Linked DNA regions of Homo sapiens. The protein of the gene in region 1 purifies or fractionates together with the protein of each later gene. This does not show direct contact. Each region holds a gene or a part of one and is shown on either strand. Other genes may lie near its edges.

What was found.
Region 2: the proteins of PLEKHA2 (region 1) and FERMT3 purify together in Homo sapiens (affinity purification with mass spectrometry, with the first as the bait; one large-scale study listed by BioGRID). This does not show direct contact.
Region 3: the proteins of PLEKHA2 (region 1) and RFTN1 purify together in Homo sapiens (affinity purification with mass spectrometry, with the first as the bait; one large-scale study listed by BioGRID). This does not show direct contact.
Region 4: the proteins of PLEKHA2 (region 1) and PRPSAP2 purify together in Homo sapiens (affinity purification with mass spectrometry, with the first as the bait; one large-scale study listed by BioGRID). This does not show direct contact.

What each region holds. Positions count from the first base shown.
Region 1 is NC_000008.11:38,946,346-38,949,845, forward strand, and holds part of PLEKHA2 (pleckstrin homology domain-containing family A member 2), read left to right. Parts: intron 1-3,500. UniProt on the Homo sapiens protein: Binds specifically to phosphatidylinositol 3,4-diphosphate (PtdIns3,4P2), but not to other phosphoinositides. May recruit other proteins to the plasma membrane.
Region 2 is NC_000011.10:64,205,332-64,209,520, forward strand, and holds the start of FERMT3 (fermitin family homolog 3 short isoform), read left to right. Parts: upstream 1-1,389; 5' UTR 1,390-1,483; intron 1,484-1,538; exon of another isoform or gene 1,539-1,664; intron 1,665-2,019; 5' UTR 2,020-2,033; coding exon 2,034-2,193; intron 2,194-2,374; exon of another isoform or gene 2,375-2,575; intron 2,576-4,189. UniProt on the Homo sapiens protein: Plays a central role in cell adhesion in hematopoietic cells. Acts by activating the integrin beta-1-3 (ITGB1, ITGB2 and ITGB3). Required for integrin-mediated platelet adhesion and leukocyte adhesion to endothelial cells.
Region 3 is NC_000003.12:16,318,523-16,321,699, forward strand, and holds part of RFTN1 (raftlin), read right to left. Parts: exon of another isoform or gene 939-3,177; intron 1-938. UniProt on the Homo sapiens protein: Involved in protein trafficking via association with clathrin and AP2 complex.
Region 4 is NC_000017.11:18,924,131-18,927,630, forward strand, and holds part of PRPSAP2 (phosphoribosyl pyrophosphate synthase-associated protein 2), read left to right. Parts: intron 1-3,500. UniProt on the Homo sapiens protein: Seems to play a negative regulatory role in 5-phosphoribose 1-diphosphate synthesis.

The DNA of each region.
Region 1 (3,500 bases):
AGTTCTCTCCCACCTCGTCTTTTTCCTTGGCTGACCAAACACAAGTTGAACTGAGAGTCTGAGTTTGAATCAAGTTCAAGGGGAAGTTCATGGAGCGTCCCCTTTGTGCTTCCTGGGAGGGCTCCCGATCAGTCATGTTTCGGGTGATTCTGGGATGCTGATTCAGAATGTGGTAGGATTGGAAAATGGATTGGTGACTGTGAAAAGTCAAGTAAGGGGAAAAGCATATGGGGAGGGAAGTCAGAACTTTTTCCCAGCTTGGGGGATACTCTTCTTACTTTCAGAGGCTGCCTGCAGGGTCAGTCCAAGCCATCCGCCTCCCTGTCCTAGAAAAGCCTTCTGTTTAAAAGCATCACAGAGCTCGTTCATGGACTGTCCTACGAGTGTGCTCTTTTTCCTTGAGTTGGCTAATGAAGAATTCCTTTCTTTTTCCTTAGAGATATAGAAAAAGAAAGGAAGAAGGGTAGGAAGGATGGAGAGGGGAAACTATGTTTTGGAAAAAACTAGACTTTTAATCAATAAGACAGGCAGACTCCTGGCTTATATAGATCATGGCTTCTTTGCTGAAAAGTTTGTTTCTGTATCATACAGTCAGAAATGCTTATGTTTGAGGGGCTTCCAGTAGTGACTATTACATGCTGCAGCAAATTATCCTCCCAGATTTCTCAGGGTTCCTGTGAACAACTGTATAGAAGAAATTTGTACACGTATATAGTATTCATATTGCTAGACCCAACCTGAGTGTAATTGAGTCTCCTATAAGCACTTTTGCTGATTAGCTTCTTATTCTGATAAACCTTGGTAAACCCGTGAAAAGAGAGAGTGATGAAAAGAGAGAGGATGGATGGCTGGGTGCAGTGGCTCACGCTTGTAATTCCAGCACTTTGGGAGGCCGAGGTGGGTGGATCACCTGTGGCCAACATAGTGAAACCCCGTCTCTACTAAAAATACAAAATTAGCTGGGCGTGGTGGCACACGCCTGTAGTCCCAGCTACTCAGGAGGCTGAGGCAGGAGAATCACTTGAACCTGGGAGGCAGAGGTTGCAGTGAGCCGAGATCGTGCCATTGCATTCCAGCCTGGGCGACAAGAGTGAAACTCCACCTCAAAAAAAATAAAAAATAAAAAAATTAGCCAGGCCTGGTGGCTTACACCTGTATTCCCAGCTACTTAGGAGGCTGAGGCAGGAGGATCACTTGAGCCCAGAAGTTTGAGGCTGCAGGGAGTTATGATCGCACCACTGTACTTCAGCCTAGGCAACAGAGTGAAAGCCCATCTCTTAAAGAAGTCTCAGGTAGTGTAAACAGCTTTGGAAAGGCTCTGCATGTTGATCTGAAGCACTGCATGACACCGGAGCATAAGCACTGACAAACAGTGTTCTTCGGGATTTTGAGAGGAAACACAGCAGCCAAGCTTCTGTGCCTCCTTTTCTGGCCACTGGGAACTCTAAAAAGTTACTTTCTGGCCAGGCGCGGTGGCTCACGCCTGTAATCCCAGCACTTTGGGAGGCTGAGGCGGGTGGATCACAAGGTCAGGAGTTCGAGACCAGCCTGGCTAACATGGTGAAACCCCGTCTCTACTAAAAATATAAAAACTAGCTGGGCATGTTGGCATGCACCGTAATCCCAGCTACTTGGGAGGCTGAGGCAGGAGAATCACTTGAACCCAGGAGCTGGAGATTGCAGTGAGCCGAGATCGCGCCACTGCACTCCAGCCTGGGCGACAGAGCAAGACTCCATCTCAAAAAAAAAAAAAAAAAAATTGTTATTTCCCTCCTTCTTTGCTGGGTTTCAGGAATTCATCTGGGTCATTTAGGGGAAATTTCTGCAGTTCCATGGTGATTTTAATCACTAAATATCAACTAAAAATCAACATCCCTAAAAATGTGGTTACATAATAACAGAACTCACAGAAAGTGAGAAAGAGTAGCTTAGGTAGGTCGTGACATGCAGCAACAAGGAGTCAGGCAGTCCTAGAGCCAAATCACTTAATTTTAATGAGCTTGAGTTGACCTCATCTATAAAGTGGAGAAAATCATGCCTGGTTGATAAGATTAGTGATAATGCAGCAAAGAGCTTATCAGTGCATTGCCTGGCACTGAATGGTGGCCCAGAGAAACTGTAACTGCTGGTATCTCTCAGCCAGAAAGAAAATAGAAGGCGGAATTTCTGGCCTGATTTGGAGGGGTAGGGAGGGGGCAGAGGACGTCCTTGTCTATGTAAACTGAGTGTGCAGTCCAGGAAGAGAAGGTCTCGTTGTCTTTGTGGGGGCCCAGCATAATCAGGGTGCTCTTATTGTTTTGAACAGACACCAAATGACAGGGCTGTCATATAGCTCTGAGCTCGGATCCTTAGGTCTTTCTTACTCTGAAAGCTGTAGAAGTGGGAGAGGACCTTAGCTTTTCTCTCGAAGTCCCGGTGACGTCCCGGCAGATAGATGTAGGGTGTTGCGTTCTCCTGAAGGTGGGGCATTGTGATGCTGGGGCACTGGTGGGAAGTCAGAGTTTAGTAGACATTCAGCTGTTTTTTTGTTTTGTTTTTGTTTTGAAACGGAGTCTCGCTCTATAGCCCAGGCTGGAGTGCAATGGCGTGATCTCGGCTCACTGCAACCTCTGCCTTCTGGGTTCAAGCGATTCTCCTGCCTCAGCCTCCTGAGTAGCTGGGGTTACAGGTGCCCGCCACTACGCCCAGCTAATTTTTGTATTTTTAGTAGAGACGGAATTTCACTATATTGGTCAGGCTAGTCTCGAACTCCCGACCTCAGGTGATCCGCCCGCCTCGGCCTCCCAAAGTGCTGGGATTATAGGCATGAGCCACTGTGCCTGGCCGACATTCAGCTGTTAATCCTGGCTTTGGGTAAATGACTCAACTGTTCTGGACCTCTTTTTTTTTTTTTCTTTCTAACAAAATGAAAGATTTCCTCAGCATTTGCAGACTCTAGTATAAATGAGTGAAGTGGGCAAGGAGGAGGAAACAGGGCAACAGGAATGAGGATAAGTGACATTTGACCCCTGGCCTCTCCCGTTCTGCTGGGGAGAATGGTAGGGACTGTGCAAACACAATGTATTTTCTATCTAAAAGGGAACTGCTGCATAGCTGAAAATCTGGATTTTTCTGTGAAATATCCCAAAACTTAGATGCAGATTTTAAAAAATACTGCATGTGACTAACAAAACATTGTTTGGGCAAAGTCAGTGGGTGGGCCACCAATTTGCAACCTCTGGCCTGTGATTTCCAACTAACAATAAAAATTTTATGATGATTTGATCAGCTGTGGTACCATATCTCTGTCAAGGAAGAGCAAAGATAGCTCATTCTTCCAAAAGGGCTCTGTGTATAATTATTAGTAACAACGTGGGAAGCCTTAATTATAATATTTTGTAATATGTTTTTCTTTTTAGTTGTGTTTCTAAAGCATTTAATATACTCTATCATTTGATAACCACAACGATGGTTATGATAAATATTATTCCACTTTTCATTTTATGCATGAGACGGTTTAG
Region 2 (4,189 bases), on another chromosome or scaffold:
TTCTCCTGCCTCAGTCTCCCGAGTAGCTGGGACTACAGGCGCCCGCCACCACGCCCGGCTAATTTTTTGTTTGTTTGTTTGTTTGTATTTTTAGTAGAGACGGGGTTTCACCGTGTTAGCCAGGATGGTCTCAATCTCCTGACCTCGTGATCCACCCGCCTGGACTTCCCAAAGTGCTGGGGTTAACAGGCGTGAGCCACCGCGCCCGGCCTGGGTGATGGTTTTAATGCACGGCTCTTACCTGAGAACTTAGGGTGCTAAGCTTTAATTACACTTTTCCATGGTTGCAACAAGCTGCGTTTTCTAAAGCTCTCTTCCTGGACTGGGGAGGCCTTTGGGGCAGGAGTAAAACTTCCTCATTTGCTCCAAGAGTGCTGCTTTCTGGGCTAGGAAGGCGCTGAGACTAGCAGCTGGCTGGACTTCCTGCTGTTAGTTTCATCAGCTTTCTTTTCCCCTGGGAATCCCCGGCAGGCCGCCCCCTTCCCCATCTGAGTGGCGATGCTCAGGTAGCCTCCCCCATTGGCAGGACTCTGCCGCCCCCAGGCTTGCCCACCCTGCATGCTCCAACCCCAGTGTGTTCACTGGAAAGGCCGCTGTCCTGCGCAGAGCTGGTGGCGGACGTGCCTTGCTCTACTGAAGTCCACATCCTAGGGCAGGTGATGAGCAGGAGGGTATAGACCACCAGAGACCCCTGAGGTGTCACCTAAGCAGGGACTTGATGGGAGTGAGCCTCGTGGGGACTCGGGGAGGCTCATCCAAGTGGAGCACAGTGGAGGGGTCGTGTTTGGAGCTGGGTGACCTGAGGGCCCGGGAGGTTGTGGATGGTCTGGGCCAAGTACTGTTCACTTGTTCACCTGGCAGGTCTGAGTTCATGAGTTTGAAGGTAGCCCTACGCGGAGCTAGGAAAAACTGCAAAATGGACTTGTTTCCCTCTGGGGCCTTGAGGGATCCTTGGTTGATAGGGATAGCCAGGCTGGAGCCGATTTAACCTGTGAGTCCCAAATAACCTGGATACACTCTGTCGACTCCTGGGCTCTCCCTCCGGCAGCCCAGTGATGTTTCAAAGCCCAAGGTCCCCACCTCATGTGACAGGCTGAGGATGGCAGACACTTCCCACAAAAGTGGACCTAGCCCTGAACACACACAGCCGGGGGACTTGTTGAGTTTGCACTGAGCTTCCCTCCAAATGAGGAAGGGGGCGTTTTTATGGTGTTGAGTCGCTAAGCCCCGCTCTCCCTAGCTTCCTGTGCTCTCTGGGGACAAAGGTGGGGGGGCCCCTGGAACCCTCTGTGGGCTGGCAGTGTGCTTCCTGCACCCAGCGCCAGCCCGCCCTGGGGAGGGGCTGAACCCGCCCTGCTCGTGATAAGGCACAAGCAAGGGCTGCCCTGAAGGAAGCTCCAAAGAGAAAGGAGGGCAGGAAGCCCACGGCCCACAGGGGTGTAGCCCGAGACCCACCTGCAGCCCCCAGCCCTTGCCAGGAAAGGTAAGCTCAGGCCTCACTGGGACCCTGGGCCCTTCTCTTCCTTATCCTCCTGCAGCCTCTGCCCAGCCTGCCTCTCGCCATGCGGCAGCCTGAACTTTCCACCTCCCCGGAGAGGCTTTGGCTGGTTTGTGATGTTGGCATCTGAGCTGTGGGCCAGGATCGGAACTACTTCCTGGCCTGGGTACGAAGCCATGGCCAGAGTGGGCAGCTGCCCCTGAGGGTCTGGGAGTGAGCTGTGGGCTGGCATTGAGCACGGTGGTCCTGAGTGAGCCCCTTCTTACCCGGCCTCAGTCTGCCCGCCTGTAGGATGGGAGCGGATTGGACTACATGGTCTCTGAGGGCCCTCGCGGCTCAAGCGCCAGCGCTGGAGAGAGAGTCTGAGGGTACCACGGGCGTGCTGGCCTGGGTGCTCACTCCCGCCCTCCTTCATGAGCGGCTTTCCTCTGGGTGTGTCCAGGGCATCACAGAGCTCTTCTGCCCAAACCCGGAGGCCTACCAGGGCCTGCCCACCTTGCCTCCTTCCACACTCTCTGTAGCAGCAGCCGCAGCCATGGCGGGGATGAAGACAGCCTCCGGGGACTACATCGACTCGTCATGGGAGCTGCGGGTGTTTGTGGGAGAGGAGGACCCAGAGGCCGAGTCGGTCACCCTGCGGGTCACTGGGGAGTCGCACATCGGCGGGGTGCTCCTGAAGATTGTGGAGCAGATCAGTGAGTGTCCGCTGCCCGCTTGCTGAACTCGGCACCATGGGCGGCCGCCACGGGTGTCTCTGGGCACTTCCGGGCCATCCCTGCTGCTCAGCTCCCGATAATGGTGTCACGGTGACTCAGGCATTAGCTTAATCATTTGGTTCCAAAAAAGACATTTCCCCAACTTCCTCTCCCTCCCACCCTCTTCCCTCCCTCCCTTCTGCTGCAGCTGGTCTGCTAAGGATCAGACGCAGCCACAATCCTCCATTCAGCCACCAATAGGGGCAGAAGGAGTGGTCTTGTCTGGGCCGAGGCTGAAGTCACATTGCTGAGGTCTGAGGGGGTCTAGGTGACCCAGGGGCCTGCCCCCACGCTCCCTCCCCTTGGCGGAAGCTTTGAGCAGGTTGGTGACAGGCCCAGCCTGGGTGGGAAGGCCCTGCCCCCACAGGAAGTTACAGCAGAGCAGCTGTGGTATCAGTCATGGAGGACCACGGGGCTAGTGACACGGGGGCTCCTCATCTTCCTTCCCTGCCGGGGGTGGGGGCTACCCCTTCCTGAGAGAGCAGCAGGAAGACCCCGATAGGCAGAGCCGGAAGACAGGCCCACCACAGTCCCGGCCAAGAGCCTGGGCCTGGGCTGCCAGTGGGTGGGGGGTGGGTGATGGTGGGGAGGCTTCCTCAGACCCCGCCAGGCCACCATGTGCAGCACAGGAGGAGGTCAGTCCGACTGTGGAGAGGATAGGGTCCAGAACGGCCCGGCCACAAGACTGAGGCTGTGAGGGGAGCTGCCAGGGGCAGGGCCCGGAGCAGCTGTGAGAATAGAAGTGAGGAACAGAGAGAGGGTGGTGAAGACCTGGGTGGCCCCAGGGCACGGCATGAGGGTAACGCAGGAGGCCTTAACCTGGAGTCAGACAGACCCCGCTGCTCTACCCGCTGCTGGGCACCCCAGGGCAAGTTCCTTTAGCTCTGTGTTCCCTGTGGTGGGGATACTGTCACTCCTAAGCACATCAGCTCTGTCTACTGATGCTCAGCCTGGCCGCCCCGGGCCAGTCCCTGGCCTCCTGGAGCAGCAGCGGGTGAGACTGACCCATGGGGGCTGCGTGCCGGCTGCCGCACAGAGGGCGCTATCATGGGGGCCTGGAGCCAGAGGAGGGGGCTGCCCCGAGCCCAGGATGGGGATAACCCCAGGAGAAGTCCTGAGAGGTGGCCTCAGCAGGGAGGAGCAAGGTGGTGGCGCTGGGACTCGGAGGGCTGTGAATTAGGGCTCTCGGCTGGTGAGGATGCTGGGAGCGTGACCAGAAATGAGGCTGGCTGGTGCCTGGCCAGCTCTGCATGGCCCCGAAGGCCTCCAGAAGGGGTCTAGACTTTCTTCTGGAGGGGAAGGTGGCCACCGAAGGGTTCTCAGCAGGAGGCTGTCCTGCTAAGGTCAGCAGCAAGGCGAAAGGCTGGTGGCGGCAGGCCCCTGAGGAGGCTGTGGTCCTGGTTAGAGACACCAGGGCCTCCTAAGGCCGGGCAGGGAGGATGGAGAGGAGGGTGGATTTTAGAGGTGGGATTGGCATTGATTACATGTGGTGGCTAGAAGAGAAAGGGAGGATGCCTGGGCCTTTGGCGCGAGTCCGTGTCCCCCAGCCCTGAGAGGTGGTGTAGGGAGCTGGTGAGGAGGGGGAGCTGGCTAGGAGAGGGCACCTCTGTGCACAGCGAGTCTGAGCTGAGCTCCAAAAGCCGAGACCAGGAGTCATGGTGCTTACAGTCCCAGTGTCAGCCACTCGGCCACAGGAACAGAGGGTTCTGGAAAGGAGGAAGCCGGTGGACAGGCCCCTCAGCTGGCAGCACATGGGTTTCTGGCTGGGGGCCCAGGGCAGGGTCTGGGCCGAGGGCCACGCATGGGGAGGCAGCAGAAAATGGCAACTGAAACCACAGAATAGGGAGACCCAGTAAGGGGACCTGGCCGAGGCAGGAGAAGAGGGTCCCAGGCCGAACCTGGGGAAAGGACAAGGTAAGGGGCCGGTCAGGAGAGG
Region 3 (3,177 bases), on another chromosome or scaffold:
CTGCCATTTTTGTAGTTTTCCACGGTAGAGATCTGTTTCCTCAGATAAAACATTTGCCCAAACACAGAATTCTGAGATTTAATACATTATAGGATTCTTGGATTTAGCACCTTTTAGATAAGAATGGTAATGGAATGTTCCATTAAAGTAGAGAAACATGAGTGAAATACATGTTGAGGTTAGGATTTAACATTTATCTGGTCCTTTCCCACCCTGTATCCCCCAAAAAACCCAAATGAGTTCACTTACAATGTTGGATGGGTTTCTCCTTTGACTTCTTTTGAAATGTCTCGTACTGTAGCTGACAGACTTCCCTTAGGAGATGGGTGGAGCTTCTTCCACCCAAACTGTGAGGATCCCAATAATGGAATCACTCTGTAGGCTAAGTGGTGTCTCAGACCCACCTCCTACTTAAGCCGAGCCTGCCAGGCAGGCATCTCGAGGCTCCAAACCCACCAGAGGAGGCCCCTGATTTTAGCCCTCAGCATGACCGTGGCTGCCTCCACCAAGCCTCCATAGTTTCCAGGCACCGTGTTATGGTTCGTAACTGCTGCCCTGTGTTAGGCAGCTGCCGTTGCATTTTAATTCCAGCCCAAATGTAAGAGTCTCTCCTTTTTTTTAATGGATGTTCCAAAACAGTCAGAGCCTCTTCACATTTTATATCATTTTACGTGTTTTTAGAAAAGGACCAGTGAAGCCTACCTGTGTAGTATAGTACTCCGAGAGGCAGTTGGCTCTCAGGGAAGTCAGAGGAAGTTTTACTGTTGCCAAAAAAGTGGTGATTGTTTTGGCTAAGAGGCCTTAAGTGCTAAAATGTCAAAGCATTATAGTATGGGTTCAAATCCTAGTGCTGGCACTCATTAGCTGTCAGTCTTTAGGCAGGTTATGAATCTGAGTTTCAAGTTACTCATCTCTAAAATGGTTGTCTCTACCTCCAGGGCTGCGGTGCACACCTCCAGGGCCCCATTCATATTGTATTTGATGTGAATAGCGCCCTCTGCTGTTGTGCAGTGTACAACTGAGGACAATTCCACCACGTGCTAGACCTTCCATCTAATATGAGCCCAGATACTCTCTCCGGGGCTGCTCTTGCTAAATAACAGAGCTTCCATAGTTTCCCCTGGATGCCTGGCCACATCCAGTTTCCTGTAGAAGATCACATCTTGTTGATCTGCTGATATAATACAAAACGAGAACACAAATGGTAGAAAACAAACAACAAAAACTGTTTCAGATCCCAACAATTCAAAAAGGAGACGTCTCAGAAAGCAAGAGGAGGCCTGGACTGTGCCAGATTTCAGTTGAGCCTCTGAGGTGAGCTCTGACATCCACACCACTTAAAGGCAGGCAAGTCCAGCCTGGGGAATGGACTCCAGGTTTTGAGTAGGACCGGGGGAGTCTCTGAGCTTAACCAGCAAGCCGCAGATAAAACAGGTTGCACTGAGTTGGGGGCCTTCCCAAGCCAGAGCATCTGTGGCAGTTGGGTGTGTCACCAAATCCAATTAGCCGCCCAATTCAGAAATAACTGTCTAAAAGAAAAAAAGAAATCCTTCACTTTACAGCAGTGTGTGTCCAGAGTTCCATGTCAGCAGGAGCCAATGGATTTAATTTGCACATTTTAAAAACTGCCCATGATGTGTCCACTTCAAGTAGTTTAGCTGGAAGGAAGTCTTCCCGAGTTGTAGAAATCACCTACTCCCTTTGAAGAAGTTTAATATTTGCCTTGAAAATCACACGCACGTACACAGAGGTTTCTTTCCAATGCTGAAAAGTCCTGATTAGAAAAATCTATCCATGTTGCTGATTAAAAGAAGACTAAATATGCCACATCCTCGGTGTGCCAATCTTGCAGTTTCTTTTCTTAAGTTTTAATGCTAGACATACTATGTGTGTCCTCGCTAAGAAGCTGATTACTCATTCATTGATTCGACAAGTATCTGTTGAGCACCAACTAAAATCTGGGTACACAACACAGGAAAAAGGTCTTTGCTCTTGTGGAGACTATGTCTGACTCTGCCTGGGAAGGATAAAATAATGATCACAAATAACTAAAAGCCCAAAGGAGAGCTCTGAAGGAGAAGAACGTGGTTCTTTTCCAGGGTAGTACAAAGGAGTCTGGTTTGGTATAAAAGGAGACAGCACTGTTCTGAGAAAAGGATGCTCGAGTAGAGCTAGAAAGGAGGAGAATGTCCTTGGCAGAGGGGACACGGAAGAACTGGAGGCCACAGAGGAGCTGGAGGCCACAGAGAATGGGAGGCTGGCAGAGGAGGTAAGAGGGACCAGATCCCTTGGGGCCTTGAGGGCCACAGTACTGATTTCCATCTTTGTCTTCAGAGTCATACAAAACTAGAACTCCTTTGAGCAGTGGGATGACAGGATTCAAGTTCCCTTTTTAACAGATCACTTGGGCTCTGAATAGGGAACCTATTTGAAGGGGATATCTATTATTAGGAGATTAGAATAGCTGAGGCGAGTGATGGTAGAGAGAAGTGGAGGGATTCCAGAGCCTCCGGGACCTAACACAGATGGGTCTTAAGGATAGATTGAATATAGGGGAAGGAGAGGGGAGGGTCAGCAGGGATAGCCCCTAAGGTGCAATGCCATTCCTCTAGATAGGGTGGCGGTTGGCCAGGTGGGCGAGGTATGGGGAGGGGGACAGTCATAGGTTTCCTCGAGCCACAGGATGGATGGAGCTGGAGTCTTGGGGTGCAGTGAGGGCTGAAAATGCAGGCGGAATGGTCATTGGCACAGAGGTGGTGAAGGAGATTTTCTAAGGAAGAGGCAAGAGTGAAGGGAGAAATGGGGCTGGGTCTGAACCCTGAGGAACTTAGTGGGAAACCAGGAGAATGAGGTGGGAAAGAACCAAGAGAAAAGCTGCTTCAGGGAGTGGGGGTGGTCCCAACATCCGGGCTGCAAGAGCTCAGGCATGATGAGGACTAGATGGAGTGACTCTCGGTCACCAGGGGACACAGGCCTGTGGGAGTAGGACGCTGACCCTTGTCAGCTGAGGAGTGAGGAGGGGACACCCAGTGCAGAAGATTCTTCCAAGGAGTCTGGCTGTGAAGCCCCCCTCTCTGGAGGACTCCCATCTGTGAGGTGACCCAGAGGGTCTTGTGTAGAACAAGTGCTCCACACCAGTCACCTACAGTCTTGGAATGAGGCAGGAAATAATTAGGT
Region 4 (3,500 bases), on another chromosome or scaffold:
CCAGGTTCAAACGATTCTCCTGCCTCAGCCTCCCAAGTAGCTGGAATTACAGGTGCCTGCTACCACGCCTGGCTAATTTTTGTATTTTTAGTAGAGATGGGGTTTCACCATGTTGGCCAGGCTGGTCTCAAGCTCCTGAACTTAAGTGATCCACCTGCCTCGGCCTCCCAAAGTGTTGGGATTACAGGCGTGAGCCACTGCACCTGGCCAATTTATTTGTTAATTCTGGGCATATAAAGGCCTAAGGATAGTAGTATGGCCAGATAATTCTTATTAAATTTGTGCCTTGTGCTAAATGTTTGCTTTGGCCCAGAAATTGGAAAATGCTATTGTTTATTTTAAAATTGCTCACTACTGGCTGGGCGCGTTGGCTCATGCCTGTAATCCCAGCACTTTGGGACGCCAAGGCAGGCCAATCGCTTGGGCTCAGGAGTTCAAGACCAGCTTGGACAACATGGTGAAACCCTGTCTCTACAAAAAATACAAAAATTAGCTGAACTTGGTGGCACATACCTGCAGTCCCAGCTACTTGAGAGGCTGAGGCGGGAGGATCACTTGAGCCTGGGGCTCAGAGGTTGCAGTGAGCCGAGATCATGCCACTGCACTCCAGCCTGGGTGACAGGGTGAGGCTGTGTCTCAAAAAAAAAAAAAAAAAAAGTCATCCTGTCATAACATGAGATATTGTTCTGTGATCAAAGTAAAGTACAAGCTGGGCACAGTGGCTCATGCCTATAATCCCAGCACTTTGGGAGGCCAAGGCAGGCAGATCACCTGAGGTCAGGAGTTGAAGACCAGCCTGGCCAACATGGTGAAACCCCATCTCTACTGAAAATACAAAAATTAGCTGGACATGTTGGCGCACACCTGTAATCCCAGCTACTTGGGAGGCTGATCTTGGAGAATCGCTTGAATCTGGGAGGCGGAGGTTGCAGTGAGCCAAGATTGTGCCACTGCACTCTAGCCTGGGCGAAAGAGTGAGATTCCATCTCAAAAGAAAAAAAAAAAGTAAACTACAAAGTTGATTATAACTGTTTGAAACATGCATCCTTTCACACATCATAAGACCAGTGCACAAAAAGAGTGCACTTCATGCCTGTATATTTTAAAGAATAGAATGAACACTGGGTACCCGCTAGCTCACTTGAGGCATAGATCATCACCAGGTACCTAGAGGCCTCCTCTGGGCTTACCCTGGTCTCTTTGCCTCAGAGGTTGTCACTGATGTGAAAGCTGCCCATCTTGATCCTGTAGTCAGCCATGAGGGCTTGTGGCCTTAAATGCTGCCTTTTTTTCTTGTCTTTGATGTTTATGTAAATGATGTCTTTGTGTACTTTGGGACTTTCTTGCTCAACACTGTTATTGAAATTTACCTGTGTAGTGGCAGGAAGTTGTACTTCATTCTTTTTCACTGCTATGTGTTGTGTCTTTGGTATAACTGCTACACAACTGATTGAGGCAATGGTACTGCTTTGAACATCCTCGTGCCTATTTTCTGGTGCAAAAGTGTGAGAGTTTCAAGGTGCCTGGGAGTGGGGTTGTTGGGTCTGAAGGTATGCACATTTTTAACTTTACAAGGTGCTGCCAAATTGTTTCCAAAGTGGTCACACCCATTTCCCAAGTTCCATAGTGGGTGCCCCACATTATCCCCAGTGCTTGATAATTTTGTACGCACCCTTTTCAGGTTAGAAAATCTCTCTGGGGCCGGGCACGGTGGCTCACTTCTGTAATCCCAGCACTTTGGGAGGCCGAGACGGGTGTAGGTCAGGAGATCGAGACCATCCTGGCTAACACGGTGAAACCTTGTCTCTACTAAAAATACAAAAAATTAGCCGGGCGTAGTGGTGGGCTCCTGTAGTCCCAGCTACTCGGGAGGCTGAGGCAGGAGATGGCATGAGAGGCGGAGCTTGCAGTGAGCCGAGATCGTGCCACTGCACTCCAGCCCAGGCGACTGAGCAAGACTCTGTCTCAAAAAAAAAATAAGAAAATCTCTCACGTCACCCTCCAGGGTAATAGCTGTCCATTACTTATTCCTTAGTTGGCAAAGTCTATAGTAACAAGGTGCTGTGGATTCAGTAGCACCTTTCCCCCCGTTCTAGTGCCACTGCATTATTTATTTATTTATTTATTTATTTATTTATTTCTATTTTTTTTTTTGAGACAAAGTCTCGCTCTGTCACCCAGGCTGGAGTGCAGTGGCGTGATCTCAGCTCACTGCAACCTCCACCTCCTGGGTTCCAGCAATTCTCCTGCCTCAGCCTCCCAAGTAGCTGGGACTACAGGTGCACGCCACCACGTCCGGCTAATTTTTGTATTTTTTTTGTAGAGACGGGGTTTCACCATATTCACCAGGCTGGTTTCGAACTCCTGACCTCGTGATCTGCCCGCCTTGGCCTCCCAAAGTGCTGGGATTACAGGCGCAAGCCACTGCACCCAGCCGCCAGTGCATTTTTTAAAAAAACGTTTTTATTTTGAAGTAATTATAGATCCACAGGAAGTAGGGGGCAATACACAGGGACATCCTGTGTATTCATTACCCAGCATCCTCCATCTTGCTTAACTATAGTACAATAACACAGACTGAAAATTCTCGGTGCCACAGCCACAGAGGTCCTTCAGACAGCACCAGTTGTGCATGTAGTGAGTGTGAGTGTGTGTGTGTGTGTGTGTGTGTGTTTGTGTTTGTGAATGCAGTCTTACCATGGGTAGCTTTGTGGAACCACCACCACAGTCAGGACACAGAATTGCTCCTTCACTGCAAGGCACCCTCATGCTTCCTTTCATAGCTACACTGACATCCTTCCCACCCAATCTGCAACCCCTTGTGTCTTTGTCCACTTTGTGCTGCTGTAACACCTGAGACTAGGTTGTTTATAAAGAATAGAAGAAATTTATTCTCTAACAGCTCTAGAGGCTGTAAGTCCAAATCATGGCACCAGCATTTGGTCTGGTGAGGGCCTTCTTGCTGTGTCCTCACATGGCATAAGGCAGAAGGACAAAAAGGAATGAACTTTCCTTCAGAAGGCCAGGAAAGAGGTTAACCCACTCCCACAAGCCTTTTTATAGCGACATGAATTCATTCCTGATGGTGGATCCCTCACAACCTAAACACTTTCCCAAAGACCCCACCACCCAACACTGTTGCACTGGGGAATAAGTTTCCAACACATGAATTTTGGAGGGACAAAAACATTCAAGCCACAGCACTGGCAACCACTGATCTGTCCCCTGTCTTTCTAATTATTATTTCAAGAATGTCATATAAATGGAATCTATGGTATATAACCTTTTGAGTTTTGTTTAACCTACCATGATTCCCCTGAGATCCATCCAGGTTGTTTTGTATATTAATATGTTATTCCTTTTTATTGCTGGGCAGTATCCCATGGTATAGAGGTACCAGAGTTTATTTGTTGAAGGACATTTGGATGATTTCCAGGTTGGGGCTATTATACATAAAACTCGCTATGTACATTCATGTATAGGTTTTTGTGTGAACAGAG